Homo sapiens: one gene and its partners. The protein of the gene in region 1 purifies or fractionates together with the protein of each later gene. This does not show direct contact. Each region holds a gene or a part of one and is shown on either strand. Other genes may lie near its edges.

Region 1 (4,057 bases):
CATTCCTTAGCCTCTCTGAGCCTCAGTTTTCTAGCTGTAGAGTAGAAATAATAGTGTCTAGTTCACACAGGTTGTTGAGAGGATTAAATAAAAGAACGCAGGTAAATCCCAGTACCTGACACGGAGCTCTGTAATGGCAGCTCCTCCCCGCTTAGCTGACCAGAAGATCCTCTGAACTTCAAGCAGAATGAAATCCTGGGCCTCAACTAAAATATCGCTAAAGTCAAGCAGGTCCTGGGTACTTGTCTGCTCTGGAAAAGAAACTAAATGGAACTAAAGGCTATACTGTCACTACACGCCCTGTAATGAGACTTCAAAACTTGAAGACACAGCTCTACCCTCAGGGCTCACCTTACAACCAGCAATAAACTCCCCTACATGATTCCCAAGCGGCCTCATGTGCACGGTTGGATTTGATCCTCCTGTCAATCATTAGGTAAGTATAACTATTATTATCCCCCACCAAGAACAAGGCAATGAGAGGGCAGAGAAACCAGAAAACAGGGCAGAGTGGGGATTTGCATCCAGGCCAGACGGCCTCCACGGCTCCTGATTTTCCTCTCAAGACAGCTGCATTCTCTACCCTCAGCCACTTGGCTTGGGACTATCAGGTCACAACAAAGCTAGCAAGGAGCAGAGCCAGTGCAGAATTGGCCAGTACCACTGGAGGACCCAACAGATGTCACAGCCCAGCCCACAAGTAGTCTGACAACCTAGCATGAGGGCAGGAGACGAGGGGCAGGGTAATGTCATCAAAGGGGCAGCTGGAAACCATGGAGCTGGAGCAAAGGGAGGAGCAAGCCAGACAGAATCCAAGGCATGTGAGGGTCAGGGGTCAAACAAGGGAGATCAATCAAAGAGTCAGTTGTCAATTTACCCAAAGCAAGCCTTGGCGCCCTGGAAGAGAAGTTGCTTCTGTGCTTCCCAAAGGAGATGCAGGCTCAGGACTCAGCCAAAGTGGGGAAAAAAAAAAAAAAGTGATAGCTAACATTCAAGTGGCACTTTTCTACACGCCTGAGATAGTTTTGAGCATTTTCCAGGTGGAAAAACTACAGCCCAAGAGGCCAAGGAACCTGTTCAAGGCCCAAAACTTGGTAGAGCCAAGGCTCAAACTCAGGACCTGGCTCCAGAGTGCTCTCCTCCTCAGCACCACCACGCTGCTGCCTGGCCGGGGAAAGGAGGTGGGCTCCCTCTTCCTTCACATCACAAGTGATCAGAGACGCGACATTTCAGGGGGAAAAGTATGTCTGGCAACTACAAATTTGTAGCTTGCTGATATGGTCGGAGGGTTTCCAAGAAGGAAGCAGGTAGGGCAGCCTCCCAGCAGTCCATTTATCCTTTTTCATGGGAAATTAATCTTCTTCTCTCTCCTGACTGTGCCTCCAAGAAAAATGGTTAAGTCAAAGCTCGTCATCCTCCCACCCCTGTAGTCACATGGCTGCATCCCCACCATAAATCAAAGCTGATGCCCCCTTTCATCAGATGCCTGCAGATAATTCCCCTGTGATTTCCCTACTGGGGCTCAGAGGGCCAAGGCCTAAAGGGTTAACATCTCATTTCCTCTTGTCTTTCAAGCCTTAATCCCCATCCTGAGCTGGGTGCATTCCAAGCCCACCTGGAGCAGGTCATGACGAGCTCCCAGCCCATGGCTGGCCCTTCATTTCCCCTGGCAGGAGATTAGATGGGGTGCCCATTAATCACTCCGTGCTTTTGTCCTCACTGCTGGCCAGGCCTTAGGCAGCTGGCCAAGGGCCAGGAGGGTGGAGCAGGCCACATGCTGCCCACCCGGTTGTGGGGTGCCCAGTGCCACCCTCCTGGGACAAGACACAGCGGCACTGTGAACCTGGCTCACTGCCCTCGGACCACGCCCTAGAGAAGCAGGGCTAATGGGCGCCAATGCCTGGGATGACACCTCAGTGATCAGCTTCGGAAAGGCTGGTAGGAGAAGACAACATAGGCAGTACACTCAGCTGGGTGACGGGGTAGACAGGAAAAGAGGTCAACAGAAAGAGACCACTTTCCCAAGACAACGCATCAATACACAAAACTGCTGCCTCTTGTTCCATGGGTTCTTCTTTGGGCAATCTAAAGGGAAGCTGGGGAAGGGGAGTGGGGCGAGCAGGGATGTTGGATGGGTAATTCATTATTACTATCACCGCGCAGCTGGGAGTGTTCATTTGCTGGGTTTGAATACACAGTTGTAACATTCAGCCCTGTGCCCTTCAGACACAAAACCCTGGATTTGAGGGGGCCTGAGATTACATATACATTTTTGTTACAGCAATACATTGAGCTCCAATTGTCTCAAGCACTGATCAGGCACAGAGTAAAGAAATGGGGCGAGAACTAACACTGAGCGCCTGCTATGTGCCTTAGGGCTTTGCCTTAAGCTCTGCATACCCATGCACTGGTCCCCCACCAGCCCTCCAGACTTTGGCCATCCTCTTGTTACACATGGGGAAACTGAGGCTGGGTGGGTAGGAAGTGGAGCAAGGCCAGTTGAATGAAAGAGATCTGTCAACGGCCAGATCCCATTCTGGGAAAGGAGGTTCAACTCACCGTGCCTGCAGGGAGGAAGGGGCTGGCTTTGCCTGTCCAGCCCTATTCGGGGGGTCCCAAACCAAGCAACTTGGGGCTCTTGAACAAACCCACCCTGGTCTTTCTCCCTGAGCACTCGCTCAGGTCCCAAAAGAAATTCACAGTGAGTCTGGTGGCAGGTGGGTTTACATGCCTTCGAGTAAGCTGAGGGGGCTGGGCCTTCAGGACTGAACTAAAGACCCCTCGGGCCAAAAGAGAGGACCCTCTTCCTGGCCTTGGCCACAACTCTCCATTGCTCACTCCTTAGAGTCAAAGTCAGGGCCTCTGTCAAAAAGGAACATGCTGCCTGGGATAAAGTGGCGTATTAACCCACCACCTGTCGCTAGAACCACATTGTAAAGGAAGCCCAGGGCAGTGGTCCCCAAACCTGGGTGTGCGGAAGAATCGCCTGAGGTAATCTTAAAAACGCCAGTTCTCGAGCCCTGCTTCCACCCTGGAGCCTGTGTTTTCTTTCACCAGATCTGAATTTTGATTCAGATGTTCCTAAGACAACTGTTTCAGGAAATAATGATATAGTGGAAAGAACACCAGATTTAGAGAGCTGGGTTTAAGATTTCAGCTCCAAACCTGAGCTGCTGACCTCAGGCAAGTAAGCCTCAACTTTCTTCCTGTACAAGGCAGATGCTGATGTCTCCCTTCTAGGTGGCTGGGAGGATTAAAAGAGAAACCACTGAAAGCCCCAAGCATTGCACACACCAGTGCTCACTAAGCATGGCCCCAGTGAGGCTAACAAGCCAGCGAGGCTGTGGGCACAGAAGTAAGTTTTGACAGGAGGAGGAAAAGAGAGCAAAACAGGCCTAGATGATGAAGGGGTGTCCCAGCCTCAGCACAGCGGTCCTGCGGAGGAGGAGTAAAATTGGGGGATCCCAAGAGGGGGCCAGAGGCAGCAAAGCAGCCTAAAGCCAGAGCTTCCCCTGAATCTTCTCCTCACCTGCGTCAGCCTGCATCATGTGTTGGCTTCCAGCATAACATTTTTAATCCATTTTCACAGCGAGGATATTCAACAAATACACATGAAACCTTTATATCTGCGCATAAGTAAACATCACGATTCTGCATACACACGCAAAGAAAAAGATGGGAAAACCAGAAAGAAGAGGAGAGAGAAGAGAAAAGTGAGATGAGGGGTCAAACCCAGGCAAATAGTCATGTGCTTTCAAGTGTGCTGGGGCCACTAACATGAGGACAGTGTGTTCCATGACCTGGAGAGGCCCAAGGAGGCTGCTCGGGGGAAACCTCAGAGTGGCTGGGGAGGCGAGGCTCATCCAGGCTGAACATAGAGCAGGCACAAAGAATGCAGGGAAGAGACACAGGAGTGTGTGCAAGAAAGGCTGGGTGGGATACACTGCCTGGCAAAATTTAGATCAGAAGAGGGGAAATCTGAATTTCTGAGCTGGGGATGGGAGGTGTGGGGAGGGCAGATAAGACCATGATAGAGACTGGGTGAGTGGAGGGATGG
Region 2 (4,057 bases), on another chromosome or scaffold:
AGAATACCCCAACTGTCTCAACCCACCTTGTGGACATGATCTCAATGGCCTCCAGGATCTAAATCCACACAGCTCTATTTAGAGTACTTATCACATTTCACATTGTATTAAACCCGGCATATCTTATCTCTCCTGCTAAACTGTAAGTTCCGTGAGGTAAAGAACTCCCATTATCTGTTGAACAAATGAATCACAACCTAGAGGAGGAATGTATGATCTATTAAATAAGGGCTAGACTTCAACAGCTCGATCTCTCAGGAATTGTTTCCCTAGAAACTGTTCAATAGATAACTATTCAACCTACCCTGATCAGTCTTTAACTTTGCTGTCGTTTTCCTAATTTTATCATTTGTAAAATGTGGATATCAAGACATTCACTTCACTGGGCTGAAAAGTTGAATAACGTAATTCACAAAACTACTAAGCAAAAGTACCTCCATAAAGCAGATGTTCAATAAATGTTACATTCCTTTGTTATCATAAAGTTACCTTAAACAACATTTGGCCTCTCTGGTCAAAAGTTCTTTAAAAACTAATGACACCAGTTCTTTGCAGTTGTCTATACCTAGGATGTGAGCAACCAGGTAGTAGAGATAGATGTACTAAAAGAAATGTACACAGTTTTGCTTTCCTTGTGCTTTATTGAGACTGAGTCTCGCTGTCGCCCAGGCTGGAGTGTAGTGGCATGATCTCAGCTCACTGCGACCTCTGCCTCCCAGGTTCAAGTGATTCTCCTGCCTTGGCCTCCTGAGTAGCTAGGACTACAGGTGACTGCCACCTGTACTTTTAGTAGACATGGGGGTTTCCCCATGTTGGCCAGGCTGGTCTTGAACTCCTGACCTCAAGTGATCTGCCGGCCTTGGCCTCCCAAAGTGTTGGGATTATAGGCATGAGCCACCTGGCCCGGCCCCTTGTGGCTTTTTGATTAGGATCTTGAGCTTGGGTTAAAGATCAATGTTGGTTCAATCGCCTTCGGGCAGAACAGGTGTGCTGGGCCACTATTGTTAGGTTTCTAGATCAGATTCTTCACAGAGTGAGGATCCAGGTTTCCTTGCCCTGGAAAACCACATTACTTCCCAGGGCTTATGAATGCCCCATTCTAGGTTGTCCAAGTGGCTGAAGTTCTGGATTTTCAATAGATAAAAATGGGTCAAAGACAGAAGAACAAGACGAATGAAACATTTTTTTGGGAGTGGGGTGAAGGGGTATGAAAACCAACAAATTCTTTAAAATTGTTGGTATATACATCTAGATTCCCAATTCCTCTAGGCATACAAGGAAGGGGCAAGAGTGAGAAACAGAGGAAGCAAGATTTGAGTGGCGAGTACAGGTCTGATTTCCTAACGCCTCTCCCTCAGGCACAAGGAAAGAAAACAGGTTGTAATTAGAGAGATGCATTCCAATACCACTTTTTTTTTTTTTTTTAAATGCATGCCCCAGGGACAGGAGGGAGTGGTTACAGAAGTTGAGATGAAACTGTAATGATAGCAGAGTCAAGCTAAAACTGCCCTAACTTGTTGTGTAGTAATTACATATCTGCAATGGATCTCAACATTATGTTCTCTCAACCACACCCCCACTAATTTTTCAGGTTTCTTCCAGCTTTTCTGAGAAGTTGTATTACTGCATGATCAGCATTCTTTGCCTTAGCATACAAGGCCACAATGACAGAGTACTTACTGATGGACTGGTCAGAAAACAGTTAAATACAATCTACAGTAGTCCTTTCTTATCTGAGGTTTTGCTTTCCACTGTTTTAGTTACCCACAAAGGTCTGAAAATAGGTCTGTACAGTACACAAAGATATTTTGAGAAAGACCACATTAAGTTTATTACAGCATATTGTTATAATTTTTCTATTTTATTATTGTCATTAATCTCTTACTGTGCCTAATTTATAAATTAAACGTTATCACAGATACATATGAGTGGGGTTAAGGGAAGAAAAAACATCATATATATGAATGGAGTTTGGTACTATCTGTGGTTTGCGAATCTACTAGGGGTCTTAGAACATATACTGCTCAGATAAGGGGAACTACTGTATTTTCTTGGGCAGGAGTATGATTTGCATAAGGAAAAAAATCACAAACAAAAAACCACACAACAACAAAGTCTTTTGAGAGACTGCTTTCAACATCAAGAGAGAATGTGGGGAGCTGTGATGGAAAGCTATAACCAGGAAAGTCAAGAGGGGAAGCCCTACTGCACTTAACAGGAGAGAAGGTCAAGTAACCCCAGAATCTTTTTCTCTGAGGATTTGCTGTTGCAGATCAAAGACACTGCTTTTCACTGCAAACATGTGAACCTCCCCCTTCTCTGATCAAGGATGCTGTGGTTTTGATGATATTCACTTGATAAGGGAGAGCTTGGTAGTTTCACAGAAAATCGGAAGTGTTTGTAGAAACAGGTTCCCATCTATGAAAGAACCACTGGGCTGGGTGTTAAAACTGAGTCCTGAACGTAAAGATCATCACAAACCTATGAAACATCATTCCCAAACAAGATAGCGTAATAGTATCTAGGAGATTACAAACAATATGCAGAAAAGGGAACCAACCAAATAAACCAAAGAAATCTATCTTGATACTGAATAGCCTATAACTCTCCTTATAAGTGAGATGACTTGAGTAAGAACATTGAGGCAATCCAAAGGATCACATTATTTTAGTGTTTCTAAAATCTTCCTAAACATGCCATGTCTTAGATTTGGATTTTTAAAAATTCTTTTCAATTCAAAATTAATTCCCTACCAAAAGAGTTTGTATCTTACCACTTGACCGAATGTTGATGAATGGGTAGTTGGGCATCACCAGCTTGTTGAAGTTAAATTTATAGGTAAATCTTTTCCCTTTTGTTTTATGAAGGATCCTCTTGTTGTAATAGTATCTGTAAAAACAGGAATACATGTCCATTCGTCTTGTAGCTACTGACAGCTTTCAATACACTTAGGTAGCCACTGAGACCAACAATTCTTGCTCTGAGTATTACTTACAAAAATCACTACCAATCTTTCGCAGCCTGGCCCTCCAGGTAGATCTAGGAGACCTAACAGCTTAATTTTCTTACTCAATTTTCAACTCAGCTCGTTTTTGCCTAGAGGTTTACAAAGACAACTTCACTTTAAGATTCTGAACACTTATCCTAGCCCCAAACATTTTCTTCTCCATCTCTCTACAATTTCGATTCTACAGTCCATTTCCGTCCGGTTGCACTGCATGTCACTAACTGCTTAGTTTTTCTTTTTGGTCTTGCCCAGGTGGGGGCAGACAAATCACTAGGGAGACCTGATGTGGTTAGTCTGGAGGCCTAAGCTCAAAAGACAGACAAAGGAATGTACAACTGTTTTATGGTGGCAGGTCAAACAATGGCATGCCCTGATCTGGAAAACAGCAGCTAGTGTGGCCCGCCTCACCTTCAAAGACTCAAAGGGATGTGAAAGAATACAGCAAAGCCACTGTACAGAGTTTACATTTCAGGTCAGGAGAACTTCAATTATCTGGAACCTTTAGTCTTACATCTATGCAGTAGCAGAGGTCATAAACTGCCTTCTAGCCCCTTGAGGGCTAAAGGACTATGAAATGTAAGACCGACAAGGGGAAAAAAGAACCTGAGAAAACTTATAGTGATCAATCTTTAGACATATTGCAGCAGGCTATGGACAACCTGAGCTCACAGACACAGTTCCGGAATAGATAGGTCAGTATCACTGAATCTTCCTCCCGTGACTTGCTTCATCCTTTTCTAAGTTTCTTTCAGGGAAGCCCAAAGAAAGAAATTCTAACAGATTCTAATAGAGAAGTCTAAACTAATCCTTTGGATTATAAATGAACTCCAATCCATGTTTCACCATATACTCTCGCCCACTACAGAGCAGAATCAGCTGTCTGTCAGGATCCAGTGCCAGCCACATTGGAATCCCCTCCTACGTATAACCAAAGATATGCCTTTTCTCCTCCTGTGCCTATGCTACTCACATTCAACAGCTCTTCTACTCCCACTTTAAAGTGACACATTATTCACTAAGATAGTGTAGTCTTTTATTACCTGATACCCT
Region 3 (4,057 bases), on another chromosome or scaffold:
TGGGGTGGTTTCACCATGTTGTCCAGGCTGGTCTCAAACTCCTAACCTCAGGTGATCTGAGGTCCCAAAGTGCTGGGATTACAGGCGTGAGCTCCCATGCCCGGCCATGTTTAACTTTTAAGTACTGTTAAAATTGTTTTACATGGTAGCTACACCATTTTATATTCCCCACCAGCAATGCACAAGGATTCTAATTTCTCCACCATCTTACCAACACTTTTTATTTACCATTTTTATATTATAGTCACTCTAAGGAGTGTGAAAGTGTACCTCATGGTGGTTTTGACTTGCATTTCCCTATGACTCATGATGTTGAGCATCTTCATGGCTTATTGGCCATTTGTATATCTTCTATGGAGAAACTGCTATTCAAGTTCTTTGCCCATTTTTGAATTGGGTTGTTTGTTTTTTGTTGTTGAGTTGTAGGATTTTTTTTTTTTATGTTCTGGATTTCATCCGTTTTCAGATATATATTGTTTGCAACTTTTTCCCCATTATTTTATTTTATTTATTTATTTTTTTTTTGGAGACAGAATCTTGCTCTGTCGCCACCCAGACTGGAGTGCAGTGGCAGAATGTTGGTTCACTGCAACCTCTGCCTCCCAGGTTCAAGAGATAACTCCTGCCTCAGCCTCCCGAGTAGCTAGGACTACAGGCACACACCATCATGCCTGGTTAGTTTTTGTATTTTTAGTAGAGACAAGGTTTCACCATGTTGGCCTGGCAGGTCTCGAACTCCTGACCTCATGGGATCCACCTGCCTTGGCCTCCCAAAGTATTTTTTCCTTATTCTGTAGGTTATCTTTTTACTCTTTTCATAGTATCCTTTGATGCACAGAAGCTTTTAATTCTGATGTATTATTTTTACTCTTTACTTTTGTTTGTGCTTTTGTGTCATAACCAAGAAATCGCTGCCAAGTCCAATGTCATGAAGCTTTTTCCCTGTGTTTTCTTCTAAGAATTTTTGTGGCACTAGCCCTTAAATTAAGTCTTTGATCCATTGTGAGTTAATTTTTATATGGTATGAAATAAGGGTCCAACTTCATTATTTCATATGTGTATATTCAGTTTTCCCCCATCGAATGCTCTTGGCAACCTTGTCAAAAATCAATTGGCCATTTATAGGAGGGTTTATTCCTAGGCTTTCCATTCTGCCCCACTGGCATATGTGCCTGTCTTTATGCCAGTCCTACGCTGTTTTGAATACTGTAGCTTTGTAGTAAGTTTTGAAATCAGGAAGTGTGAGTCCTACAACCTTGTTCTTTTTAAAGATCATTTTGGCTATTTGGGAAAAACATTAATTTTAAAAAATTACTACTTGTAAGATCTGTGTGAAATTTCTACCTTCTGAAAATATGAATTCTTCTCGTTAAAATTTTCTGGGACTCTATTTCCTGCTGTTCACTAAAGTGTGTATTTATGCTCTTAATTATAGAAAGAGTATTCAAACGAAAATGCAGTTGTGAAGAGAATGCAGTCTCTTCAACTTGATTGTGTGGCAGTACCTTCAAGCCGGTCAAATTCAGGTAAATTACACTATGGTCAAAATCTATTCATTTATTTGTTTGGTTACTCATTCACTCCACTCTCTAAAAGACTATTCAGGACCATATGGGAAACAGAAGAAACTATAAAAGTGAACACCTGCCTTACAGGAATTTATAATAATATTCGAGAGTCAAGTTACATGTATTTGAAATATGAAGTAACAGTGTGCTCACCAGTCATAGAGTGTTCTGAACAAAAGGCCTAATATATCTGATGGGGAGAAGTGACAGTTCAGAAGAAGGAAGGGGACATATGTGAGAGCAAAGTCCCTGAGGAGCTCGGAGTGACTTACAGCCAGGGTACAAGCAGAGAGGCTGGTCTCAGGTCAAGTAGGGATACTTTTTTCACTGTAACAAAAGGGATGGCAGAGTATAGGATACTGAAGCCGCTTAGCTACCTGATCTGTGGCTAATTACTTAACCTCTTCTAAACTTCACTCATCAAATCATAATTGCTCCTCCTCTCATAGGGCTCTTCAAGAATGAAAGAATTCATGGGACATGCTTAGGACAGAGCTGCTGCAGATCTTTTTTTTTTGGAGACAGAGTCTGTCACCCCGGCTGGAGTGCAGTAGTGTGATCTTGGCTCACTACAACCTCCGCCTTTCAGGTTCAAGCGATTCTTCTGCCTCAGCCTCCCAAGCAGCAGGGATTACAGGCATGCACCACCATGCCCGGCTAATTTTTGTATTTTCAGTAGAGATGGGGTTTCGCCATGTTGGCCAGGCTGGTCTCGAACTCCTGACCTCAGGTGATCCGTCCGCCTCAGCCTCCCAACGTGCTAGGATTACAGGCGTGAGCCACCGCACCCAGCCACAGATCTTATTTTCCACCTGAATTGCTCCAAGGAGACAACCACCTTCTCTGCTCCAAACCAAGTCCCTTTTTTCCTTGATCATCCCTGCAACAGCCGCTTTTCTCTTGCTTGCTATAATTTTCCTAGTACTCTCTTACTGCCAGCGAGGAGCTCCTATTATTATTTGTAAAGCTTGTGGGAAGAGGACCATCTCCTAAATGCTTTGGACTGGTCTCGTACTTGTTTTCTGTGTGTTACTTTGAGATACAGATTCATGACGGCGCTCAGATTTTATTTTACTTTTTAATGTTTCATGACACCCATTCTAATGTTGATCATTTCTTCTCAGCCACAGAACAGCCTGGTTCACTGCACAGTTCCCAGGGACTTGGGATGGGTCCTGTGGAGGAGTCCTGGTTTGCTCCTTCCCTGGAGCACCCACAAGAAGAGAATGAGCCCAGCCTGCAGAGTAAACTCCAAGACGAAGCCAACTACCATCTTTATGGCAGCCGCATGGACAGGCAGACGAAACAGCAGCCCAGACAGAATGTGGCTTACAACAGAGAGGAGGAAAGGAGACGCAGGGTCTCCCATGACCCTTTTGCACAGCAAAGACCTTACGAGAATTTTCAGAATACAGAGGGAAAAGGCACTGCTTATTCCAGTGCAGCCAGTCATGGTAATGCAGTGCACCAGCCCTCAGGGCTCACCAGCCAACCTCAAGTACTGTATCAGAACAATGGATTATATAGCTCACATGGCTTTGGAACAAGACCACTGGATCCAGGAACAGCAGGTCCCAGAGTTTGGTACAGGCCAATTCCAAGTCATATGCCTAGTCTGCATAATATCCCAGTGCCTGAGACCAACTATCTAGGAAATACACCCACCATGCCATTCAGCTCCTTGCCACCAACAGGTAAATGGGTCTTCGATAGTCACAAGCTTGTCTTTTTTTATTTTTCAGAAAATACAGCAACCAAGCAGCTCTATTATAGATTGTGGGTTATAATGGGGACAGAGGGCATCATCAGCTGCCAGATGCAAATTGCCCCTGTGGAATGGACCCTGCCAAACCACTTGGTCTGGGAGTATTTCATCTGGGGCTAGGATTCATCACAGATGCCCGCAAGCATCGGGTTACAGGTCCTTGTGACTGGCAGGCATCTTTGACTCTAACCTGGAGTGCATAGTAGTCCTATTTCACCCAATCTCTGATAAATGGGAAGTTATCTGCTTATTTGCTTTTACCTTGCTTGCTACTTTTTGAAGGTAAGAAATCAGTCTTGGATATTTTTGTTTCTGACCTTATATAGCTCAAAGACTACCATTAGTGATGAAAAATTTTCTTTTAACTCCCATATCTCTATCAGGTGAAGTAAAAGGTAGGTGATAGTAGTTACTGGCAGTCTAGAATGGAAGTGAGTTAATGTAATATCCAGCATTTTTATCAAATAATACTCACCAACATCACCTTAACTACCTGAACAGCATCTACCAATGATACCCACAGGTGTCCTGGAGATCTTGAAATCATCTCAGGTAGAGGAAGCTTTCAGAACCACAGAGCTTAGTTACATTTTCTTTCAAAAGGCCAAATTCTCCAAAAACGTCCTATGCAAACATCCTCGATTTCTTCCATAGGTTTTATGATAAGATCTGTAGAATGCAAAATATTGGATTAGACATTAAGCAGTATCCAAGTCATGTATAA
Region 4 (4,857 bases), on another chromosome or scaffold:
CCTATGTGGGCTCTGTCTGGGCTGAGTGAAGTCCTCCTGTCCAGAGGCAGCGGGGTGGTTACAATGGCTTCTGGGACTCCTCTCCAGCCTGAGAAGCCAAAGACTAAGTGTGTCTATGTGTGTCTGTGTATGACAGTGTGAGTCTGTGGCTGTATGCCTCTGTGTGGTTTTGTATAGTGATGTGTGACCATGTGAGCTATGTAAGTGCTTAAAAGTGACAGTGTGTGCTTGTGCATGACAGTGGACAGCTGTGACCAGGAGCCTGGCTGTGTTCGTGTGTGATAGTGAGTGATGGTGTGTGCCTGGGACTATGGCCACAGGTATCTGTAGGACATTGTGAGTCTTTCTTGACTACACAGCATTGCGTACTGTGTGTGCTTCCTCTTATGTGATTGTGTGGCTCGCATGCAGCTGCCCCCACAAGCTGGCTTCCAGTGAGGCCCCTCCTGCCACTGAGTCAGTGGCAGGCAATCCTGGGTGAGGAGCCAGGATCCCAGGACCCAGGAGCTCAGGACTGAGCTCTTGTCCCTCCCTACCCTGAAGCCCCAGGCAGGCCTATCCCCAACCGGTTGGACCTAGAGAGGGATAAGACCGGGGGGTGTAGCCAGGGCCCCACCCTGGACACTCTGCCCTCCACCTCCCAGTCTCCAGCAACCCTGCCTCTGCAGGCCCCTCACCAGGCCTCACACACTCTCCGTCTGCGTTCTTTTTTGAGTCAACATGTCTTCTGGAGTCACAGCCCCAGGTCTCAGCAATCATTCTGTTCTATCATGTGGCTCAGGACCATGTTTACACATAGAGATCTCACACATGCACACACACAATTACACCATCACAGGCAAACAAATCGGCACGTGGCCCACTCTTACAAGGCTTCAAAATGCAGATACATACCTATATGGCCCCACCTTCCTACAAACACAGACACTATATAGATTCATTCAGACACAGACACAATCTGCACACAAACACAGAACATATTAATTCAAAAGACACACCCACCGTGTGTTCATATAGTCCCTGTATGTGTTCATTCAAGACCAGACATATCTATGGAAGCCCTGCCAGGAAGGCTTAGCCTGGCTCCAGAGAGGCCAGCAAGGGCCCTTTCAACACCCTCAACAGCTCAGGGATCCCTGAACATCCCCCCTAGGAACACTGGCTGGGCCATCAGCTCTGTCATAACCCAGCTAGACTCCAAGGTGACCCAGAGCAGGCAGGCTGACTGCTGGGGCTCTAACGGGACCTAGTGATGCCTCTTCCAGCTCCAGGCCAAGAGAACAACAGCTCATTCCTGAGATAAGGATCCTGCTGCCATCTGCCAGATCCTGAGGCTGCTCAAGGCAAGCCAGGGATGAGCCAGAACTCGGCTGAGAGCAGAGGCTCCACCCTGGAGAAGCACCGCTGGAAGCACCCACACAGGAAGGACTCTCTCCATGCCATAGGAGCCTGCCAGGCAGGATGGTAAGCATTCAGGGAGAGGGGCTTGGGAAGGAGCGACAGGCTGCAAGAAAAGCACCTCCACCCTGCACCAGGCTGAGAGATTCTTCAATTGTCCCAGACCAGGGAGCCTCACCCAGCTTTTCTATCTCCTTAGAAGTCTTCTCAACCTCCTCCCAAGGGTTCCAGCCTTTCCGCACCCCTCCCTCTCCTTGGGAAGTTGCTCCTAATGTCTCACCTTGATTCCTCTTGCTGTAGCACTAAGGAAGTACTACAGGGAATGTGAGAGGAGAGGCTGGAGAGAGGGAAGAAAGGCAAAGTGGAAGAGAGAGCTGGATGGGAGACTTGAGGAGAGACAGGAATGGAGGAATCACATGGGCTCTCCAAGGAAGAGGACAGTGGTGATTCTTTGCCCCCCAAAAGCACCAGAAACTGGCCATGCTTTACGGGGTGTCATCTCAATAGTGGTGCCTACTCTCTGCTTGCAAATTCTTTCTGAATCTTCAAGGTGCTTCCAGAACTCCTGATCTTCCCTCTGGAGGTAAGGGAGGGGAGAAAAGGCGGCTCCAGCTGAGGGTATTGATGCGTTAATGCAGCCAGTGCTGAGTTGTCCTCACACACCCATTGACACACCACACAGGGGGAAGTCCGGGTCCCCACAGCACAGCTGGAGCCTCCCGAGTGGACTCTGCCAGCCCTGCTCTCATCAGACAGAGAAGGGCTGCAGCTATCCTGCCGGAAATGTCATCATTCCCATGCAGGTGCACGCACCCACACACTCACATACACATTCACGCTCACACAAAGGCTGAAAATGTCACCCCGCCTTCCCAAATTCCTCCTTCATGCCCCTTCATCCCAAATCCAGACTGCAAGAGGGACTCGGAGCCCTTTCCAGTGATGTTGGCATAGAATGCCCCTTGGTGGAACTTGCCCCAACCTGGGCAGGAAGCCACAATGTCCAAACTTGAGCCCTGCCCTGTGGACCTGTCCTGGTGGGGTGAGAAGTCTCTGGAGTTGCCATCCCCACCACCCTCAGGCCTCATCCTAGAGTGGGGCACTGCCCTGTCATAGCACAGGGGGCCCAAGGCTGAGGTCTCAGGCCTGAGCTGTCACTGGCCATGATGGAAGAAACCACTCAGACTTACACCAGACTTAGTCTCTTGCCCTTTCAAGGCAAGTGACTTCCCTGCCCCTTGGCCCTGGCCTTGGGAGAGAAGGAGTAGCGTTGGGAATAGCACACAGTCTGATGAAAATTGATCCTTCCCAAGCTCCTCCTGAGCCCTCACCCAATGCCCGTGCTTACCCCTCTCCTACCCCACCTCCAGCTCCTGCAGAGCAATCAATCCCTCTCCTCCTAGTCACGGCATGAGCTTGCAGGGCACCTGCACACATGTGTGAGCCCGACAGGGGACATATAAAGATCCACTCAAAGACCTCTGCACTACAGACACACACCCTGAACATCAGGCACAGGGTCTCCTGGGGAAAGGTCCCCTGGTAATACCCACACCCGGCTGCAGCAGGGCAAGGGTGGGCAGCACCCTGCCAGGCAACTCAGGCAGCCCCAGGCTCCACTGTGAGCCCTTGCTGCCCCTTTCCTTCCCACCTAGCCTCATGCTGGCTACCCTGCCCCCTGCCCAGCCCCGTACCTGGGCTCAGGCACACGAGTAGAAGGTGGAATGCTCCTCCAACTCTCATGTCTCTAGGCTCGGTGTTTCCTCCGTCTGGGCTGGGTATCCCGTGGGGTCGTAGTGGTGGGTGTGAGGGGGTAGGTGGAGGGAGGGGGAGCTGAGGGCCCAGACACTGCCTGGGGTGGCAGGAAGGTGCAATGAGTGCCCAGCTGGGGAGCAGCTGGAGTTATTTCTATGGGAGGGAGGGGGCCTGGTCCCCGCCTTGGGGAGGAGTCCCAGGAACCCTAATTAGCAGGGTGACAGGGTGGCCTACCTGGGCATTACCCAGCCCTCACCCAAGCTCTTCCCTGTCCTAAGAGTGGCACAGGACAGCCAGCGGGACTTGTAATTAGGCACCTGTTAAACTTCACTTCCTCCTGGCCACATCCTCAGGGTGACAACAGTCACCTCATTTACAGCTTCCAAGGGCTCCCCTCACCACTCATTTGCTGCCTCCTTCCCTGGGGGAAGTGGGGAAGAGGAAGGAGAAGCCAGGCTTGGGAGAAAGAGTGGCCAGGACCTGAAGAGTTAATCCTGATCCCAGGGCATAGGGTTCCCCAGGAGTGTCCAGCCCACCTTCCCCCAGGCTTCAGGCCTTTCAAAGGGACTCAGGCCTCCTGAGCTGAAAGAGGAGAGAAGGGGTGTGTGCAGGAACAGAGTCTCCTCCTGGCTGTCCCCTCTGGAACTGTCCTCCACACCCATACTCGACTCAAGGCCATCCCCAAGTGTAGGGGACCCCTGGGAGCAGGGGTGCTATGGGGGGTCCAGGGTGTGTGCTAGGAGTAAGGTGACTGATGGGCTAGTGAGGGAGTGTTGGAGAGAACAGCGCCAAGAGGACCAGGGAAGGGGGTGCCTGTGTAAGCGTGTGCACCCCTCAGCAATGTCTGTGGGAGGGAGGCAGGATGTCTGTGTCAGGGTGTCTCTGTGAGGATGGCTAAGCCCCTCTGAGTGAACTTCTTGAGGGATCGCTTGGTGTCCTGGCTTCTCTGCCCAGAAAGAGTAGCCAGGTCTTGAGGGTTAATGCAGTCCCAGTATTAACTGGGTCCTTGAGACCAAGGACCCTCATAACCTGGACTGGTCATCGGGCTGACTAAACCAGCACAGTTCTGGGTAAGTTCGTGCTGGGGTGGGGAGGGTCCTGGTAGGCATGGGGAGCAAGTGAAGGGCCACCCCTTGTTGGCTTGTCTAAGGGGGACAGAATGGGCATGTGCCTTGTTGGACTCCATGGTGGGAGTCAGGACATGAGTGACCCCATTCAATAGCTCAACTCCCTCAAAGGAGTCAGGGACTGCCCCCATCCCTACCATGGGGCACAGAAAGGGCAGAGGAGGAAGAGTGTTAGGGAGAGTTATGGGGCTCAGGGATGCTGCCAGGGCCCACCCCTCTGGGGAAAAATAAGTCAGAACATTAAGGAAACACAAGGAGTCCACGCGTCTCTGCATTCCAAGCCGTTGCACCTGAACTCCCAACAATAACAGGGCGCTCTGAGACCTACCAGATGTACACAATGAATATCTTTATTTCCTTATTTATTTTTAGGTTTATGGGATTGTCCTGCTCCCTTTGAAGAGCAGGGATCATTATCCCCATTTTACAGATGGGGAAACAGAGACCTGGAGAAACATGGGGATTCAGCCAATGCGGCTGGTGCCTAAGCTGGGATACCCAGGTACCCAGGGTGTCAGTCCAGAGAGGTCCAAAAAATGGTCTTGGTGATCCTGTGGATTACTAGACCCACTCACGA
Region 5 (4,057 bases), on another chromosome or scaffold:
GTATGGCAATTATTGGGTGTTTTATTAGTTCAGAAACCTGTTTCTCAGAGCTAAATGTGCGCAGAATGAATTAACAGAGAAGTTTAAAACTCAGCAACATCGGGGTAAGTAAATGTAAAATGATAGCGGTCTTGTTAGGATGATGAAATTATGGATTTTTTTCCTTTTTTCTATTTTCTAAATTAACTATAATTTATAAATAATCTATAAACTATCATTTCCTTAAAATAGGGGTTTAAACACATTTTCCCTAAAAATAGAGTGAAAGGACTTGAGACCAGAGATAACCGACCATTGAGACCCGTAATATCCTAACAATATGAAAGCTGGTTAATAATTGGTAACTATTTCCTATTTAGAAACAGAGGGCCTGGTGTGGATCTCTATTTCCTTTCATTCTATTTTCACTGCTGCTGCTACTAAGGTTCAGATCCTCACCACATCTGGACCACTGCACCACATTACTGACTCATTGCCAGTCCTCTAATCCTACATGTCACTACCACCTGACTCCTAAAACACATTCCACACCATGTCACTCCTTTTCAAAATATTTAATGGCTCCTAGAGGGAGATATTCTTTTGGCTGGAAAAGAACAATGGTATTTTTCTAATTCACAGGAAAGAAAATTAATAGATGGATTTTTCATAAGTTTCTCTACCATAATTTTTTCTTACCTACTTAGTCTACTGCTAGCACTACAGAAACTTGAACAAATAGTAGCAAAATTAAGAGGGAAAAAAATCAAAGCAGTCAATTGGAACTATTTTAACACCTTTTTTCCTAACTGACAGTGTTAAGCCATGTTTGCACTGCTATAAAGAAATACCCAAGGCTGGGTAATTTATAAAGAAAAGAAGTTAATCAGCTAATGGTTCTGCACTGTGTATGGGAAGCATGGCACCAGCATCTGCTCAGCTTCTGGCAAGGCCTCAGGGAGCTTACGATCATGACAGACCGCAAAGGGAAGCCCAGGTGTCACATGGCGAGAGAGACAAGGGAGAGGTCTCAGGCTCTCTTAAACAACCAGATCTTGTGTGAATTAACTGAGTGAGAACTCACTCATCACTGAGCTATTCATGAGGGATCCACCCCCATGATCTAATACCTTCCACTAGGCCCCAACATTGGGGATCACATTTCAGCATTAGATTTGAGGGAACAAACATCCAAATCATATCACTGAATCATGTTCATGATTGTGATTTTTATGCTGCATATTTTTGATATTCACATATTCTGCCAATAAAATTAATTCCTGGCCAGGCACAGTGGCTCACACCTGTAATCCCAGCATTTTAGGAGGCTGAGGTGGGCAGATCACGAGGTCAAGAGATCAAGATCATCCTGGCCAACATGGTGAAACCCCGTCTCTACTAAAAATACAAAAATTAGCTGGGCGTGGTGGCGCGTGCCTGTAGTCCCAGGAGGCTGAGGCAGGAGAATCTTGAACCCGGGAGGCAGAGGTTGCAGTGAGCCAAGATCGCACCACTGCACTCTAGCCTGGTGACAGAGCAAGACTCCAGCTCAAAGAAAAAAAAAATTAATTCCTAATTATAAGATAGAATTAAATATGTCTGGCACCAGCGTAAAGTTTGAGAATCACCGGACCTTACCACCATTTCCAGCTTCATCTACTCATTCACTCACTGATCAAACATTTCATTGATCATCCATTATGTGCCTCTCACTCATCCTCCACTCCAAGTACACTAGACTCCTTTCTTTATAACAAATATACCCTGTCCTTTACTTTCTCATTGTCTTGACTCTAATATTGCCTCTCTCTGGAATGCCTTTCCTCTCCATTTATTCTTGCTGAAAATCTTAACTATCCTACAAGGAAAAGCCTTCCCAGATCATTCTCTCACCCTCTCACCTTTCCAATCTCCCAATTTATTTCATCCTCCTCTGTGCTCTCAGTGCATGGTGGGGTTTGGATTACAATACTCACATTCTCCCTCATGTTACAGTTATTTGGGTACGTGGACTACATTTTGTCTTAAGGGCATCTTTCTAATTCCACACAGAGGTTGAATATAATAGGCATTGAATCACTGACAGTTTCATTGAAAGAGAAAACTTTTTGTTTGAAGGTACCTAGCCTAGAACAACCAATTCTAACATCCTGATAAATTCTGACTCTCCTTAAAGAAAAGAACTCACAAAATGGCCTTATCTAGCTTGAGATACTGCTGACAACTTTTTCTAATAGTGACTATATAAATGGAAACAATATTTGCTTCTGATTCAAGCTTGAAAATAGAAAGAGATAAGCATCTACAACCATAAAAAGGGCCAAGCTATTTGTTGATTTATGAGCTGGTTATCTTAAACTCTCCAGCGAATAGTTACTCAACTCAAACAATTTCCTGAGGGCTGGACTTTGGCAGCTTCAAACTATTACATCATGTACAACAGAAGAATTGTATGCTGATAAAGGACAAAAAGTCTTATTTTTCCTGCACAAGAACTTAGATAACTGTCATGTATAACAAATTTGTCTAAAATTTGTTAAAAAGTAGTTGGAAAGAAAACAAAAAGGCACGTTTCACTTTGTTATAATTGACAAATTATAAGAACTAAGAAATGACAGCTGCAGGCTACTTAGCCCTTCCTTATAAAGATCTAAAGTTGTATAATTTACTGACTTCTAAAGGAAGCAGCATGGTAGTAGAAAGAACATAGTGGTTAAAAGTATACCCTCTGCAGGCCGGGTGCAGTGGCTCACTCCTGTAATCCCAGCACTTTGGGAGGCTGAGGCAAGTAGATCACAAGGTCAGGAGATCGAGACCATCCTGGCTAACACGGTGAAACCCCGTCTCTACTAAAAAACACAAAAAAATTAGCCGGGTGTGGTGGCGAGCACCTGTGGTCCCAGCTACTCGGGAGGATGAGGCAGGAGAATGGCGTGAACCTGGGAGGCGGAGCTTGCAGTGAGCCGAGACTGCGCCACTGCACTCCAGCCTGGGCAACAGAGCGAGACTCCATCTCAAAAAAAACAAAAAGTGCACCCTCTGCAGGGCCAACAATATTGCAGAACCTCGGGAGGTAACATGCTTTTAGTGGAGATCCAAAGGGTCCCATTCCTAGAGAACATTATGTGAATTATACAACTTGGGGACACAGAGTTAGTGGAATAGAACAGGTCTCAGCTCCACCATCTAACAGCTGTGGCATATTGACCAAGTTATTGAACTAACTCTTAGGTACTTCATCAGAAAAAATGTGACTAATAATAACATCTATCTCATAGGATTGTTATAAGAATTAAATAAAATAATGTAGATACGTATAATTAGCCCAGTGCCTAATATGTGGTAAGTGTGGAATAAATGTTTTGATGATGATTATGGTGAGGATAATGATGATGAAGAATAAGATGAATCTACATTCCAATCCTAGCTCCATCACATTCAGGCCATTTACTACCTATAATAAATGTGATCTGCTGAAAGGATGCAACAAAATAATGTACGCAGAATACTTAGGGCCAGGTACAAAACAGGAATTCCATAAAGAGTAACTGTGATTATGATGACTGACCATCCTCTATATGCATTATCTCTCCCCCATCTCTCTTTCTCTTACAGGCAAACACACACACACATATAACTACTATAAAAATTTCAGGAGATTAAACTATAATTGATAGCATAAATCCCAAGGCCATATAAAAAATGGGGAAAAGTGTATCCTTTTTTTTTTCTTAAATGTATCCTTTGTTGTTGTTGTTTTTTGTTTTTGTTTTTGTTTTTTGAGACGGAGTCTCGCAGTCACCCAGGCTGGAGTACAGTGGCGTGATCTTGGCTCACCGCAACCTCCGCCTCGCAGACTCAAGCAATTCTCCTGTCTCAGCCTCCATCCATAGTGGCTGGGATTACAGGTGTGTGCCACCACGCCCAGCTAATTTTTGTATTTTTAGTAAAGATGGGGTTTCACCATGTTGGCCAGGCTGGTCTCAAACTCCTGACCTCAAGCGATCCGCCCACCTCAGCCTCCCAAAGTGCTGCGATTACAGGCGTGAGCCACCGCGCCCAGCCTGGGAAAAATGTA
Region 6 (4,057 bases), on another chromosome or scaffold:
GGGCAGTGGGTGGCAGCTCCCAGTCAGCCACGAGACCAAGAGGGTGAACACCGGTACTCTACAGTGTACTGTGTTGCCAGATGATTTTGCCCAACTGTAGGCTATGGCAAATGTTACAAGCCCGTTTAAGGTAGGCTAGGAAAGCTATGTGTTCAGTAGGTTAGGTGTATTCAATGCCTTTTCGACTTGATATTTTCAGCTTACAATTGGTTTGTTGGGCTGTAACCCCATAGAAAGTCAACAAGCATCTGTATAATCTTTTCAGTGCTTGGAGCCTCTGAAAAGGTCATCTGGCCCCAAAGATGTCCATGGGTCTAAAATGCATCGCCATCTGCTCTGGGGTCATGAGTGCTGTTCAGCAACTATTTCCTGTTCTCCTTTTGGGCCTGTGGAAAGCCTGTGTGCCTCACTCTCTTGGAGGCCAGTGGCCTTGTGACTTTCCTTGGCCAATGAAATATGACAGAAGTGGATGGTTGCTTTAAGACCCAGTGTACCACTGACCACAATCTCTCTTTGTCTTTGCTGTGACCATCTATAATGTCCCAGGATAGTGGCAACTCTGCCAGTCTGGGTCTTGGAGTAAAATTAACATGAAGCAGAACCCCTGGTTGATCCAAAAGAGACATATAACATAAGCAGAAAATAAACCTTTGTTGTTCTAAAGCAGTGGTGATTTGGGGGTCATTTGTTATTGCAGCATGATCTAGCCCAACTTGATTGATACACCCACCTTCTCCACCCTCCCCATACCCATACTCCTCTCTTTTAACGTTCCTCAAATCCATCTGGTAACTTGGCACACCTCAGAGAACCATGCTGGGAGGACTCCCTAAGCATTCTTGTGAGAGAGTTCTATCAAAACCACCTTAACTCAGGGGAACATTTCAGCAAATTTAGCGAAGCTTCCTCTTATAATGATCTTAATGCTTATTTACACCTCACTTTATTTTGTGCTCATTTGTAAACACCAGATTCTGCATGGATGAAGCCTTCCTTCATCTTAAGCTTGAGAAATGGCAAACACCGTGCTTTGGTGGCCTCCACCTGTACAACATCAAGCTGAATTTAGGCTCCATGACCCAGTTTGCCATCACTCCGCAACCACCCCATCAGAGCGGTTGTAAGCAATTCCCAGACATGTCACTTGCTTCTCCAAAGGGAAAACACTCAATATTTCAAGCCCTTACCATGCTGCAGGGAATTGCACTAGACAGTTGTTAAGGATACCGACATTATCATGGCCATCTGGTAACCAGTGGGAGACGAATGAGCAAGGACGGAACATAATGATGGAACATAACCAGTACCAATGGAAGGTGTGCATGTGACCTTTTCAGATAGGAGGCCAATACCCAGATGTATTTCTAATTATGTTCACTTAGTTCCTCAGGCTGGCGGCTTTTCCACGGATGGAGATGTTTAGCTGCTTACAAGATGACATCTTTTAACAGTGTACACGTCTTCAACTCCTGCCTGGTCTGTGTATAGCTGCTTTGTCAGCTGGCACACTTAATTAAAAGGAAATATGTTTACCTTGAAGGCAAGTCCCCCAATGCAAACTAGTTTTGAGATGCTGATATATGTCCCAAGGCATGCCCATCTGAGATTTTTACAGCAGACCAAGACGCTAAGTTCAAACTTTGGGTTCAAAACCGTGCTTTTTATACAGCTAAAGCACAAAAAGTTTTAGTGAAAATATTCAAATGCGGTCGTTTCTCCAGAGTTTTTAAGTGCTATTTCAAGAAGCAGCCCCCAATGTGTCAATTGTATTATTACACTCGATTTGTATTATACTCGATTTGTCTAAGACATTGTTAATGAGAGAGAGGCATATAACCATTAAGTGCCAGGACTACCCCTCATAGCACTTAACACCATCTCCCATACATAGTAAATACTGTGCCTGTAAATACCTGTTGATTCTAAAATTCTATCTTGGTTGTGCAATTAGCTTTCTATGATAGGGGTAAAGGTGCATCAATTTCTCCAAGTATTCTTGAAATAAAATGGAGAAAAATGTGTGTGCTCTCAGGTTGAAGGAGTATAAATGAACAGTTGCTTCAGAGTAAGTTTCATGGAAGATGTCACCTGGACTCTTGGGACCACTTCACTTCCTTCATATCCCTTCATTCTCCTTTTTTTTTTCTCTAACCATTTTTCATGATGATGCCATCTCTAACTGCTTCCCAATTCTCTGTTCTGGATGGAGTCGGCTCCCTGGCAATCTTCTGTGCCTAGAAATGACCTCTTTTTTTTTTCTCTCCACCTCATCCTAGTTCAAAACATTTAGATCACGCAGTACCCAAAACACTAGCCAAGTCATGAATCCTTCTCTTTCTGTTGGAAGAAAAACAGCAAGTTCCCCCTACTCTCAACTCCTACAACTGTCCGTGCATCCTGGAGACAGTGTTGCTAATAGTGGTCCTGGGACTGTCTGCATCAGAATCAGATACTGTGCCATCGAGAACCAGTGACTCAGCATCTCTAAGGCTGGGGTCTAGGAATTTACCTTTTCAACAAGCATCCCAAATAGCTCATGCACACTAAACTTTGAAACCAGTAACTCTGAGTTTACTTTTTTGCGAAGACTTAAAGTAAGGTTGTTAGTTTGGATTTTGAAATATATATATATATATATTTTTTTTTTTCAGTTGTCAGACTTTTAAAAAATTCTTATTTCTCTCCTAACCCCCCAGTACATAGAACAAAGAAGCAAAATCTCTTCTCTCTGCCACTTTTGCAGGATTGTTACAGATATCACAGAAGACAGCAAATTTTAAAAGCCCTCTTAACTAAAAATACGAGAAACAGAGAGACTGTTTCCCCATTTAGAAAGCAAGTATTAATGCTATTTCCAGTACTGATAATAAAACACTAAAATTCACAAAGGTTTTTTATATAGTGTTTTCACGTCTCTTTTGTTCCTCACAACAACCTTATTAGTGGCATTACTAGTTGTTAATATTCCCCAATTTGAGACTATAACCACCCAATCCTTTTTTTTCTTTAAGAGATGGGCCTCTCTCTGTTCTTCAGGCTGGACCCAAAACTCCTGGGCCCAAGCAATCCTCCTACCTCTGCCTCCTGAGTAGCTGGGACTTATAACCCAATCTTTGAACTCCCAGTTTGGTGGACTTTTCATTAGGATAAAATGTCTCAAATAATAATAGTAATAATAATAACAGAGATTTAACTGGTTTACACTATTAGGGACGAGGATGGTGGCCTTTGATCAAGTCAAATATAAGACTTCTGTTTGATGTAAGACTGTAGAATTCAGCCAGTTGGAAGCCAGAATTCTACTCTCCTTAGGTTAGCTTGTTACTTATTATTTTGGAACACTGCAATTTCCACTGTAATGATTTAACATTATTGATACATCATTCATGTACATTAACTTTCTACTTTCTATGCATGTGATAGGAAATAGTCCCAACTCTATGTGTTGCCAGCCTAGAACCCCTACCTTTCATCAACCTCCTTCCACACACTAAGAGGCTACAGGCACAGCTGGGGCTTGGTCTATTGTGGCAATGCTTGGTGGGGCAAAACACAAATGATAACTTTGTTGCTTATGAACAGAACCTCCCGTTTGGACCAGAATTTTGGCATTGTTTGGACAGAGGCAGATTTCCAACCTTGCAATTAGACATCCCCAGAGGAGTTGCCTTTAATATTTACCAAACTGGAGAAAGCCCACGAGACCTTGAGGACTCCTAGGAAAGTTTACAAAGCATTCTAAGTGAAAAGTAAAAGGGAAAGATACAGAGTCAAAGTGGGACCTGGAAAAGCCAAGGTTGAAGCTAGGTTGAAGTTTCACTGAGTAAAACAGTCTGGGTCCAGGTCTCTTCTTTGCAGTTTATTTTATTGGTGAAAACATTTTTTTTTTTCCTCAAGACAAAATATGGTCAACTTTATATGAAAGGTGTGTATAACAGAGTATAAAATTTTGAGTTTGGGGAGAGATTTCCAGATCTAAAATTCTGTGATCCTAAAACTGCCTCCTAAGCCTTTGCATTAAATTAACTTCCTTCTGATACAGCTATAAAAATACTAA
Region 7 (4,057 bases), on another chromosome or scaffold:
CTAATTTGTTTCTAATAAACAGAATACAAAAGAAGAGATAAGATGTCACTCCCAAAATTACATTTTTAAAAGAGCATGGCTTGGCCTGGTGCGGTGGCCCACGCCCGTAATCCCAGCACTTTGGGAGGCCGAGGCGGGCAGATCACGAGGTCAGGAAATCGAGACCATCCTGGCTAACACAGTGAAACCCCATCTCTACTAAAAATAGAAAAAAATTAGCCGGGCCTGGCGGCGTGCGCCTGTAGTCCCAGCTGCTGGGGAGGCTGAGGCAGGAGAATGGCATGAACCTGGGAGGTAGAGCTTGCAGTGAGCTGAGATCGTGCCACTGCACTCCAGTCTGGGTGACAGAGTAAGACTCCGTCTCAAAAATAAATAAATTAATTAAATTAAAGAGCATGGCTTCTGTCTTAGGTGTTCTCTCACACATGATGGCTTACTTCGGGGAAAGAGCTACCATGATGTAAAGCAGCACTGTGGAGAGGTCCACCTGAATGAGCTTAGAAGCAGATTTTTGAGACTAGCCAATAGCTGTGTGAAGGAACTTGGAAGTGGATTCTCCACCAGTCAAGACTTGAGATGACTAAAGCCTCAACTGATAACTTCATTGCAGCCTACAGAGAGGCCCTGAGTCAGAACTACCCACCTAAACTGCTCCTGATTCCTAATCAACAGAAATTGTGACATAACAAATGTTGTTTTAAGCTGCTAAGTTACAACAGCAATAGATAACTAATACATGTTATGTCAGAATAACACATTGATTGAGACCATCCTGGCTAACACGGTGAAACCCCGTCTCTACTAAGTACAAAAAATTAGCTGGGTGTGGTGGCTGGTGCCTGTAGTCCCAGCTACTCGGGGGGCTGAGGCAGGAGAATGGCGTGAACCCAGGAGGCGGAGCTTGCAGTGAGCCGAGATCGCGCCACTGCACTCCAGCCTGGGCAAGAGAGCGAGACTCCGTCTCAAAAAAAAAAAAAAAAAAAAAAAAGCAGAAAAAAACTGCCCTCATTCTAAGTCATCAGTTTTGTTGCTTTCATCTAAAGACAGGAAAATGAACTACAAATCTACAAAAAGTTTATACGTGTGTTTCTGCATCATAAAAAACAGATATTTATAGATATTCGCAAAATTTTGAGACCACATTCAGGATGGCCTCAATTAAGACATAAGCTTCTATGGCATAAACAAACCTCATTTGAGGATGTTGTTTCTCAGACATACAGGTGGTCTTACTCTGCAGCAGCTGAAACTGAAGCACAAGAAGCCCTTGGAACTATCATCAGGACATGTAAGTCCCATGTACTAAAATACTTGGGCCAGAGAAAACCAAGTATAGTTTAAATAGGAGTTTCCCCTCCCCTAAAATCCAAAGTCACTAAGGAGGAACTTCAAGACTGCAGGCATTGGTTGCAGTGGAGATTTTTCTCTGTGTAGCAAGCACCAAGGTGAGCAGAGCCTTTAATTAAGAATAGTTAGTAATTTTGCCAAGAAATGGTAGGGGGACCATCTGATATATAGGATGGTTCAAATTCCATAAACATTATTTATTTATTTATTTATTTTGAATTTTTGTATTTTTTTTTATTTTATTTTGAGACGGAGTCTCACCCTATTGCCTAGGCTGGAGTGCAATGGCATGATCTTGGCTCATCACAACCTCCACTTCCCGGGTTTAAGTGATTCTCCTGCCTCAGCCTCCAGAGTAGCTGGGATTACAGGCACCTACCACCACACCCAGCTAATTTTTGTACTTTTAGTAGAAACGGGGTTTCACCATGTTGGCCAGGCTCTTCTCAAGCTCTTGACTTCGTGATCCACCCACCTCGGCCTCCCAAAGTGCTGGGATTACAGGCATGAGCCACCGCGCCCAGCCCTCCATAAACATTTATAATGTATACTGTGTGTCAAGCACAGAGGTTGGTAATATGAATGAATAAAGATACAGTTCCTACTCTAGAAGAACTTATACTCTAAAAGAGGAGTGAGACTTTTGTATATTTTAAAATTAAAATTAAAAAACTTGTATTAGTTTCCTATTGCTTCTATAACAAATTACCACATATTTAGAGACTTAAAACAACAAATCATCTTATGGTGGAGATCAGAAGTCCAAAATGGGTTTCCCTGGGCTAAAATCAAGGTGTTGGCAGGGCTACATTCCTTCTGGAGTTTATGGGGGTGAATCTGTTTCCTTGTCTTTTCTAGCGTCTAGATACTGCTGTGTTCCTTGGCTTCTGGCCTCTTCCTCCATTTTTAAAGCCAGCAGTGTAGCATCTTCTGATTATGACACTACTATCTCCTTCTCATAAGGACCCTTGTGATTACATTGGGCCCACTGGGATAATCCAGGATAATCTTCCCATCTCAAAATCCTTATACACATTAGCAAAATGTGGTAAAAACTGAAGACCTAACAAAGATTCATGGTTGTGTGGCTGAATATATTCATGTTAAGAGAATGAAAAAGGCAAGTCCAAGACTGGGAAAAAATTTAAAACCTGTATCTGATAAAAGTCTGTGTCCAGAATATATAAAGAACTCTTATAACCTGATTTTTAAAAATGGGGGAAGTATTTGAAAAGACGGTTCTATCAAAGAACATACATGAATGACAAATAATACAAAATAAAACTACAATGAGATGTTATGACCCTACCACTCAAATGGCTACAGTTAAACATTGACTATCCTATATTTCACCAAGAATGCAGTGCAACTGGAACTCTCAGTTACAGTTTTCATAAAATTTACATACTCTTCTAATACAAGCCATCAGTCCTTGCTCTGAGGTGTTTACTTAAGTCAAATTATGTATACACAAAGACTAGTACATAAATATTCATAGTAGCTTTATTCATAATAGCCAAAAACTAAAAACAGTTTTGTGATTATGATACTGATATATGTATGAACTTAGCAATAAAACTGAATGAACTGAAATAGAGAACAACATGGATGAATCAAAGAAGCATTATGCTAAGGGAAAGAAGCTAGACACAAAAGATGACATACTATGTGATTCCATTATATGAAATCTGGAGAAGACCAAACTATAATGACAGAAAGCCTATTCATGGTAACTAGGGCTAGGAGCAGGTAATTATCTGCAAAGAGACGAGGAAGCTTTTTGGAATGATAGAAATGTTCTACATCTTAATTATGGTGGAGGTTATGACTGCACTTTTTAAAATTCATCAAACTGTACAACAAAATTGGTAAATTTCGTTGAATGTAAATTATGCCTAAACAAGGCTGAATGAAAACATCTGTCTATACATACAAGCACAAATCCAGTTAAGCAGTTTGCTAATCTTAAACTCACACTTGGAACAATTATGCTTTTTTTAACCTCCAAGGTAATGTGTGAATAAATCTGAGCTCTTTTGGAATAGGTTTATGTATACAAATACTATGAAATTCAGAGGAAAAGCTCTTTCTACTTGGACTTATGAGCAGAAGACAGAATTTTTGAGCTTCCTCCTTTGAGCTTCCTCCTTTGAGCTGGAGTTGCAAGGAAAATTTCTTTTTTTTTTTTTTTTTTGAGACAGAGTCTGGCTCTGTCACCCCGTCTGGAGTGCAATGGTGCAATCTTGGCTCACTGCAACTTCTGCCTCCCGGGTTCAAGCAATTCTCCTGCCTCAGCCTCCGGAGTAGCTGGGATTATAGGCGTACGTCACCACACCCGGCTAATTTTTGTATTTTTAGTAGAGATGGGGTTTTACCATGTTGGCCAGGCTGGTCTTGAACTCCCGACCTCAAGCAATCCACCTGACTCAGCCTCCCAAAGTGCGGGGATTACAGGCATGAGGCACCACGCCTGGCCAAGAAAAAATTTTAAAAACTTTCTAGCTTCTTTATGATGACATCAGAGGATTGGAATTAGAAGGGGGAAGGGTGACCTAAGAAGAATAACTGAAGTGGAGAATCTGAAAGGAGGCCAGACTATTGGAGAGGGAGTTCCACTGGGCTGCAGGAAAGCATAAGATTGCCTTGGTAAAGTGAGCTCCAATCATGGTGTACCTTAAGTTCTAGAACGAGGAATAAGGAATTGATTAGT

What was found.
Region 2: the proteins of THSD4 (region 1) and ETV3 purify together in Homo sapiens (affinity purification with mass spectrometry; one large-scale study listed by BioGRID and IntAct). This does not show direct contact.
Region 3: the proteins of THSD4 (region 1) and RIPK1 purify together in Homo sapiens (affinity purification with mass spectrometry; 2 studies listed by BioGRID and IntAct, with this or other methods). This does not show direct contact.
Region 4: the proteins of THSD4 (region 1) and VSIG8 purify together in Homo sapiens (affinity purification with mass spectrometry; 2 studies listed by BioGRID and IntAct, with this or other methods). This does not show direct contact.
Region 5: the proteins of THSD4 (region 1) and USP54 purify together in Homo sapiens (affinity purification with mass spectrometry; 2 studies listed by BioGRID and IntAct, with this or other methods). This does not show direct contact.
Region 6: the proteins of THSD4 (region 1) and ARID5B purify together in Homo sapiens (affinity purification with mass spectrometry; one large-scale study listed by BioGRID and IntAct). This does not show direct contact.
Region 7: the proteins of THSD4 (region 1) and MLF1 purify together in Homo sapiens (affinity purification with mass spectrometry; 2 studies listed by BioGRID and IntAct, with this or other methods). This does not show direct contact.

The regions. Positions count from the first base shown.
Region 1 is NC_000015.10:71,118,284-71,122,340, reverse strand, and holds part of THSD4 (thrombospondin type-1 domain-containing protein 4 isoform 1 precursor), read right to left. Parts: intron 1-4,057. UniProt on the Homo sapiens protein: Promotes FBN1 matrix assembly.
Region 2 is NC_000001.11:157,131,339-157,135,395, forward strand, and holds part of ETV3 (ETS translocation variant 3), read right to left. Parts: intron 2,890-4,057; coding exon 2,774-2,889; coding exon of another isoform or gene 2,742-2,773; exon of another isoform or gene 1,807-2,741; intron 1-1,806. UniProt on the Homo sapiens protein: Transcriptional repressor that contribute to growth arrest during terminal macrophage differentiation by repressing target genes involved in Ras-dependent proliferation. Represses MMP1 promoter activity.
Region 3 is NC_000006.12:3,102,790-3,106,846, forward strand, and holds part of RIPK1 (receptor-interacting serine/threonine-protein kinase 1), read left to right. Parts: intron 1-1,435; coding exon 1,436-1,526; intron 1,527-2,632; exon of another isoform or gene 2,633-2,692; coding exon 2,693-3,262; exon of another isoform or gene 3,263-4,002; intron 4,003-4,057. UniProt on the Homo sapiens protein: Serine-threonine kinase which is a key regulator of TNF-mediated apoptosis, necroptosis and inflammatory pathways.
Region 4 is NC_000001.11:159,859,381-159,864,237, forward strand, and holds the start of VSIG8 (V-set and immunoglobulin domain-containing protein 8 precursor), read right to left. Parts: upstream 3,278-4,857; 5' UTR 3,142-3,277; coding exon 3,093-3,141; exon of another isoform or gene 1,266-3,092; intron 1-1,265.
Region 5 is NC_000010.11:73,584,480-73,588,536, forward strand, and holds part of USP54 (ubiquitin carboxyl-terminal hydrolase 54), read right to left. Parts: intron 1-4,057.
Region 6 is NC_000010.11:61,995,477-61,999,533, reverse strand, and holds part of ARID5B (AT-rich interactive domain-containing protein 5B), read right to left. Parts: intron 1,468-4,057; exon of another isoform or gene 1,383-1,467; intron 1-1,382. UniProt on the Homo sapiens protein: Transcription coactivator that binds to the 5'-AATA[CT]-3' core sequence and plays a key role in adipogenesis and liver development.
Region 7 is NC_000003.12:158,587,637-158,591,693, forward strand, and holds part of MLF1 (myeloid leukemia factor 1), read left to right. Parts: intron 1-1,215; coding exon of another isoform or gene 1,216-1,288; intron 1,289-4,057. UniProt on the Homo sapiens protein: Involved in lineage commitment of primary hemopoietic progenitors by restricting erythroid formation and enhancing myeloid formation.